2 linked regions of the Homo sapiens genome follow. The protein of the gene in region 2 binds, or shares a complex with, the protein of the main gene of each other region. Each region holds a gene or a part of one and is shown on either strand. Other genes may lie near its edges.

Region 1 (3,748 bases), on a different chromosome or scaffold from region 2:
GTGTATTTTATAACAGTAAAAAAACATCCATTGTGGATGGATGGGGTATCGCATATACTCTTTCAGTGCCTAGATGTCCTAGGGCCTTTTATTTTTCTAATGCATATGGAGGCCTTGAGTGAGTAGTAGAGTACCTAATAGGCACTTTTTCCTAATGACAGGCCAGGACTCTGATCTTGGAGCTTATCTACCTCTCTAATTCTTAGATTTCCCACTACACCTCGGGAAGAATGTGGTAGGCCGAATGCCTGACTGCTCTGTGGCCCTGCCCTTTCCATCTATCTCCAAACAACATGCAGAGATTGAAATCTTAGCCTGGGACAAGGCACCTATCCTCCGAGACTGTGGGAGCCTTAATGGTACTCAAATCCTGAGACCTCCTAAGGTTTTGAGCCCTGGGGTGAGTCACCGTCTGAGGGACCAGGAATTGATTCTCTTTGCTGACTTGCTCTGCCAGTACCATCGCCTGGATGTCTCTCTGCCCTTTGTCTCCCGGGGCCCTCTGACAGTAGAAGAGACACCCAGAGTACAGGGAGAAACTCAACCCCAGAGGCTTCTGTTGGCTGAGGACTCGGAGGAGGAAGTAGGTAAGTTTGTATATTGGCAGGGAGAATGAGGAGACAGGAATAATGAGTGTACAATTGTCAACTCATTCCTTTCTGTTCTTGACAGATTTTCTTTCTGAAAGGCGTATGGTAAAAAAATCAAGGACCACATCTTCCTCTGTGATAGTTCCAGAGAGGTGAGTGCCAAAGAGTCAGACACCTGAGTCTTCAAAATGAGGAAGAACCAGGGGCTGGAGGATCAATCTCTAAAAGAGATGATTATCATGAGAGTTGGGGCTGGGGAACCATACATATTCATTCACTCAGCTGAATTTTTATGGAGCACATCTGATGTGCCAAGTGGAAAACAAATTGGAAACAGAAGAAGAAATATGCTACCTTGTGTCTCCCCTCAAGGAGCTCACAGTTGAGTTGGGGTATCCCTTCCAGGGAAATAAATTCTATAGACTCTCTTTTCTTCCCTTCACAGTGATGAAGAGGGGCATTCCCCGGTCCTGGGCGGCCTTGGGCCGCCTTTTGCCTTCAATTTGAACAGTGACACAGATGTGGAAGAAGGTCAGCAACCAGCCACAGAGGAGGCCTCCTCAGCTGCCAGAAGAGGTGCCACTGTAGAGGCAAAGCAGTCTGAAGCTGAAGTTGTAACTGAAATCCAGCTTGAAAAGGATCAGCCTTTAGTGAAGGAGAGGGACAATGATACAAAAGTCAAGAGGGGTGCAGGGAATGGGGTGGTTCCAGCTGGGGTGATTCTGGAGAGGAGCCAACCTCCTGGAGAGGACAGTGACACAGATGTGGATGATGACAGCAGGCCTCCTGGAAGGCCAGCTGAGGTCCATTTGGAAAGGGCTCAGCCTTTTGGCTTCATCGACAGCGACACTGATGCGGAAGAAGAGAGGATCCCAGCAACCCCAGTTGTCATTCCTATGAAGAAGAGGAAGATCTTCCATGGAGTAGGTACAAGGGGTCCTGGAGCACCAGGCCTGGCCCATCTGCAGGAGAGCCAGGCTGGTAGTGATACAGATGTGGAAGAAGGCAAGGCCCCACAGGCTGTCCCTCTGGAGAAAAGCCAAGCTTCCATGGTTATCAACAGCGATACAGATGACGAGGAAGAAGTCTCAGCAGCGCTGACTTTGGCACATCTGAAAGAGAGCCAGCCTGCTATATGGAACAGAGATGCAGAAGAGGACATGCCCCAACGTGTGGTCCTTCTGCAGCGAAGCCAAACCACCACTGAGAGAGACAGTGACACAGACGTGGAGGAGGAAGAGCTCCCAGTGGAAAATAGAGAAGCTGTCCTCAAGGATCACACAAAGATTAGAGCCCTTGTTAGAGCACATTCAGAAAAGGACCAACCTCCTTTTGGGGACAGTGATGACAGTGTGGAAGCAGATAAGAGCTCACCTGGGATCCACCTGGAGAGAAGCCAAGCCTCCACCACAGTGGACATCAACACACAAGTGGAGAAGGAAGTCCCGCCAGGGTCAGCCATTATACATATAAAGAAGCATCAGGTGTCTGTGGAGGGGACAAATCAAACAGATGTGAAAGCAGTTGGGGGACCAGCAAAGCTGCTTGTGGTATCTCTAGAGGAAGCCTGGCCTCTGCATGGGGACTGTGAAACAGATGCAGAGGAGGGCACCTCCCTAACAGCCTCAGTAGTTGCAGATGTAAGAAAGAGCCAGCTTCCAGCAGAAGGGGATGCTGGGGCAGAGTGGGCTGCAGCTGTTCTTAAGCAGGAGAGAGCTCATGAGGTGGGGGCCCAGGGTGGGCCACCTGTGGCACAAGTGGAGCAGGACCTCCCTATCTCAAGAGAGAACCTCACAGATCTGGTGGTGGACACAGACACTCTAGGGGAATCCACCCAGCCACAGAGAGAGGGAGCCCAGGTCCCCACAGGAAGGGAGAGAGAACAACATGTGGGTGGGACCAAGGACTCTGAAGACAACTATGGTGGTAAGTGCTGGCCTTCCTTCCTAGACCTCTGAAATCAACCAGGGTTCTAACAGCTGGGGTTGGGGAGAGAAAGGTAGAGATTATTTAAGGAGTTTAGTGTCAGGTATGATTTTTGTTTTAAACTGTCTTATATTCCTCCCCGACCAGATTCTGAAGATCTGGACCTACAAGCTACCCAGTGCTTTCTGGAGAATCAGGGCCTGGAAGGTGAGGACTTCTGTGTTATTTGAATCCTGTACCAGTGGGAGCTGGGAGATTAGACTGGTGGTCCTTGAAGGGTAAAGGCTAGTATGGGTAGGGTAGGAGACCAGGAATGGAACCCTACAGTAGTATGGAGGAGATGAACTTAGGCCATCTTTTCCTGTACAGCAGTCCAGAGCATGGAGGATGAACCTACCCAGGCCTTCATGTTGACTCCACCCCAAGAGCTTGGCCCTTCCCATTGCAGCTTCCAGACAACAGGTATAAGAAACTCTTCCCTCCTCTGTGTCCCCAATTCTGCATTCTCTTTTTTTTCCTCTGTCACTCAGGCTGGATTACAGTGGTGCAGTCTCGGCTCACTGTAACCTCCGCCTCCCAGGCGGTTTCTCTTCCTTCAGCTTCCCAGGTAGCTGGGATTACAGCTGTCCATGACCATGCCTGGCTAATTTTTTGTATGTTTAGTAGAGACAGGGTTTCACCATGTTGGCCAGGCTGGTCACAAACTCCCGACCTCAAGTGATCCGCCTGCCTCGGCCTCCCAAAATGCTGGAATTGCAGGCGTAAGCCACTGCGCCCGGCCTGCGTTCTTTCTTGATTTGCCTTCCTACATGTTTCTTTCATACTCTGATTACAGTGAGCCCTCTGTGTATGCGAGTTTGCGTCCGTGAATTCAACCAGCTGCAGGTTGAAAATATTTAGGGACTGGCCTGGGCAACAGAGAGAGACCTGGTCTCCACAAAAATGAAAAAATTAGCCCAGCATAGTAGTGAGCACCTGTAGTCCCAGTTACATGGGAGGCCAGGATGGGAAGATCAGTTGAGCCCAGTCTGGGCAATAGCCCATCCCTCAACCCCCACCCCCAATGTCTCTTAAAAAAAACACACACACACTATTGCAGCACTGTTCACAATAGGCAGATATGAAATCAAACTAAATGTCCATCAACAGATGAATGGATAAAGAAAATGTAGGCCGGGGTCGGGCACAGTGGCTCACACCTCTAATCCCAACACTTTGGGAGGCCAAGGCAG
Region 2 (3,748 bases):
GGTTTTTTCCCCTGTAATACTGTAACAGGTCCCATACATACCACACTCCATAGAGTGATCTTTCTAAAATGCCTATCTTATCAAAATTCCATCTGCTTACAATCCTTGTGTGGCTTCCCATTGTTTCCAGGAAAAGGTTCATGTTCCTTAGCATATTGTGCAAGATTCTTCATTACCTAAGCTGTCTCCCTTACCTTTTTCAGTGTCTCCTCTTGCCACTCCCCCAACTCCATTCTACTGCCAGCAATGCAACTATTTGCTGAACCAAAATACGTTTGGGTCTCACACCTTTAGGTATTTGTGCTTGATGCTCTCCCCAACACCACCCCCAATGCTCTCACCCACCTCTCTCTTCCTCCTCCCCTACCAAAATACACAAACATGTTAATTCCTAGTTATCTCAAGTGATCTTTGAAGCATTTCCTGATTTTGCCCACATCTGTGGGTAGCTTTGCATTTTCCTATTGTAGTACTTCTCAAATTAAGTCTATTTACCTGTCTCCTCCTTTGCATAGTAAGCACTCTGAAAATAAGAATGTTTCTTTTACATTTTTGTATCTCTATTTCTGGGGCTCAAAACAGTGCCTAGCACAAGTAGACACTCAACAAGCATTTTTTGAATGAGTGTATAATTATATAGTCTGTAGATATAAGGATTTCTGATCTTGAGACTCTCTGAAAGCCTTGCTCCAAAAGTGTGTCTGATTCCTAAGCATTAATCTTTTTCTTCCAGGGTGTGGGGTTCTAGGTAGGTGGAGAAGGAAAACAAAAGCGCTCAGGACGCGTTGCCTTTAGCTCTCCGGAGAGCCAGTAATGTGTCCTGCCTTTCTCCACCCTCCTCCCTACCACCTTTCCACACCTGGGTGCCCAAGATGGGTGTAGACTTAGCTGACCAGCCCAACAACATACTCATACCTTGGTTCAGACTTCTCTTATTACCAAACTAAAGTTGGCCAATACACATAAACAATTTTCAACTTGTCTTTTGAACGTATACTTTATGAAATTTGTATGTCTTAAAAATTGTAGGCCTTAAAATGAACGAACCCGGATTCTTTTATAGTAATCAAGTAAAATATAGGGGTCTTAATTCTGTACTTTGCCTTTGCTAATCTTAAAGTTAGATGTGACTAACTGAGCAAAGTAATTAATTACGGGACTTTGATAGTGGTGATATTCCTAAGTTTTATAACCTAATTGTTCAATTACTGGAAACAACTACATTTCGACAAGTCTTAGGTAAAGAAAATTGAATTTAGCCGGAGAAGATTCAATTGAGGGAAGTGAGGGACAGAGGTATTTGTGATTTAGGGTTTGTGGAAGATAAATTACGCAGCAGGGAAGACTGAAATATGGAGAGAAAGTCAGACCTCACTGGGTACTTATGACTGGTAAGGCTAGGAGTTGGAGGTGGAGAAAAGTAGGAAGGACCGTCTAAGGGTTGGATCCCCAACAACACCATAATACAAGACCGTCCTTGTTCAGCCAACAGCAGCACTGAACACGTTCGCTAAGTGTGTCGGTGACCATGGTAACGGTGGGAGGGGGCGGTCCAAACCTCGCCCTCGAGCATGCTCAGTGCAGAGCGAGCCTGGTAGGGTGCTGGACAACAATGAATCCCTTTTTTCTTCAACCGGAGAACTACAATTCCCAAGAGCCTTCTCGGTGCGGCGACACCGCCTTCCGCTGTGGCCCTGCCCGGTCCCCTCCCTCAGGCCCCGCCCCCCGGCTAGACCCCTCCCCTCCTTGCGAGTGTATGTCAGTGACCCAGAGGCGGTGTGAGGCGGAGGGACCGTCGGGGGGCGCCGCCGCCGCCTCCACTAGCAGCAGCGGCAGCAGCCCTAGTCCCGCGGTGCGGTCGAATTGGTCCCCAGCCCTCCGGGAGCGCACCACAAAGCAGCCCCAACGCCTCTCCCTGCGTCCGCGGCTCCTCAGCGCTCGGCTCCGTGGTCAACTTCCCCTCGCTGGGCTCGGCTGGCGGGCGCGGAGGGCAGCGGCGGAACGGCGGGCTGTCTGCTCGCGCTCCCCGCGCACAACACTTCACCCTCTCGCCTCGGGTCTCGGGGGCCGCTCTGGGATCCCGGCCACCAGCAATTGTCCGGTAAGTGTGACCGCGGGGCGCCGCGGGATGGATGGCGGCGGGGCCGCCGAGGGGCGCGGGGAGGGCGGGCGCGCAACTTCCTCGGCGGCTTCCCCGGCGGCCAGCAGCCGGCTCTCCCCGCCCGCCTGCGCGCCCCCGCTGCGGCGGGGAGCGGAGTTTGCGGCGCCTGCATCCCGCGCCCTGGCTCGAGGAAGCGCCTTTGTCAGGAACCGGCCCTACGCGGCCTCCCCCTCCGCCCGGGAGCGGGGCGCGCGGCGGCCAACTCCGAGCCCCGCGCCTGGCTGGCCGCGCGCTCCGGCTGCGAGAGGGGAGCTCTGCGGGTGGCGGGGAGGAGAGGGAAATGGGAGAAACAAAAGGGGCGGTGGGTTTCCCTTTTGTTTGTGCGGATCTGATAACTTCTTTTCCTCCCTTACATAACGCAGACTTCAAGTTAGTCATTCTTTTTATTGTTATGATTGTTGTCATCATCTCTGCGCGTCTTTCACATTTCCTTTCATCTTTGGATCTCAGAGCATTTTAAACACGCTAATTAATTTCACCCCCGGGTCCCCTAGGAAACAAGTTAATACGCCCGTTTCCCTAAGTGGGTAAACTGAGGTCGTGAAAAGCTCTCAAATTGATGGATACGCTTGATCTTCTACCGCGCCTCGTGTCTGAGTATATGAAAGCGTTTATGAGGAAGAACCCGTTCTCCAAAGCCCCGTGGAAAAGTTAAAGATGCTCATTTTACTTACAGGTTAACTGAAGTCCAAAAGATGTCTAGGTAATTGTTACGTAGTTCAAACCATAATTCTTCTTACATAGTGTTTGAATCTTAAAACCTCTAAAGACTTAGTGAAAAATGCTCCGAGTAGGGAAATTAATGTAAATCATAAACTCACGTCACCATCTACTTTTATTTTTGTACGTGCAGGTCTGTTAGAGGCAAGAGAGCAAGAAGGGGACAGAGGGCAGAGGTTTTTTAAAAATGTACATTTAACAGATTTTAATCACTACACACAAGGAAATGTGCCTTGGTTTTAACAGCACCAACAATATTCCTGTCGTTTAGTCATCAAACAGTATATCAACAAATGTTATTGAGAACTTTATTCATAAGGTGCTGGTTGTGCTAAAAACTGAAGCTTTATATATAAGAAAAGGTCATCTGTTTCGGTTCACAGGCTCTTTACTTTTTCTTACTCTGCAAAATGTTACTTTGTTTTCATTGCACATGATCTTTTGTTTCAGAAATGGCATTGTCCTTTACTGTGTCGAATATGTATTACTCTTACACTTAAGGATAAATGAATTTATTATTAAGTTTTCATAATAGGGTGAATTTAAAATATTTTAATTGTGGTAAAGGTTCACTTTATTCAGTTCTGTTTCAGTTTACGATGCGTTTTCTTTATAGCCAACAAAATATTTTCTGAGTGATAAGATTTACATGTCTCAAAACATTGTTCTTAGTGTACAAATACAGCATATGAATTCCTTGTTTTTTTTATTTATACCAACAACCTCTTCTGGGGAAAAGTCTTTAACTCTGAGGACCTTATTTATTTTGTGAGTTTTTATTTCTTCGGTACCATACTGGAAAGCACCAAAAATTTAAACCAAGCATCACTTCTACTAGCTCTTTCCTCAGGTAAATAATAATCAGAA

What was found.
Region 1: the proteins of PELI1 (region 2) and MDC1 are in contact, whole or in part, in a crystal structure (PDB 9IF9), measured with the Homo sapiens proteins. Residues at the interface, in NP_065702.2 of Homo sapiens: Arg104, Ser105, Thr106, Glu107, Thr115, Asp116, Val130, Gln131, Ser132, Thr133, Ile134, Ser135, Arg136, Phe137, Thr185, Asn186, Thr221, Arg222, Ser223, Ala224, Cys247; in NP_055456.2 of Homo sapiens: Glu761, Asp762, Ser763, Glu764, Thr765, Gln766, Pro767, Phe768, Asp769.

The regions. Positions count from the first base shown.
Region 1 is NC_000006.12:30,710,642-30,714,389, reverse strand, and holds part of MDC1 (mediator of DNA damage checkpoint protein 1), read left to right. Parts: intron 1-206; coding exon 207-587; intron 588-672; coding exon 673-742; intron 743-1,035; coding exon 1,036-2,516; intron 2,517-2,663; coding exon 2,664-2,723; intron 2,724-2,885; coding exon 2,886-2,978; intron 2,979-3,748. UniProt on the Homo sapiens protein: Histone reader protein required for checkpoint-mediated cell cycle arrest in response to DNA damage within both the S phase and G2/M phases of the cell cycle.
Region 2 is NC_000002.12:64,142,434-64,146,181, reverse strand, and holds the start of PELI1 (E3 ubiquitin-protein ligase pellino homolog 1), read left to right. Parts: upstream 1-1,761; 5' UTR 1,762-2,101; intron 2,102-2,655; exon of another isoform or gene 2,656-2,864; intron 2,865-3,748. UniProt on the Homo sapiens protein: E3 ubiquitin ligase catalyzing the covalent attachment of ubiquitin moieties onto substrate proteins. Involved in the TLR and IL-1 signaling pathways via interaction with the complex containing IRAK kinases and TRAF6.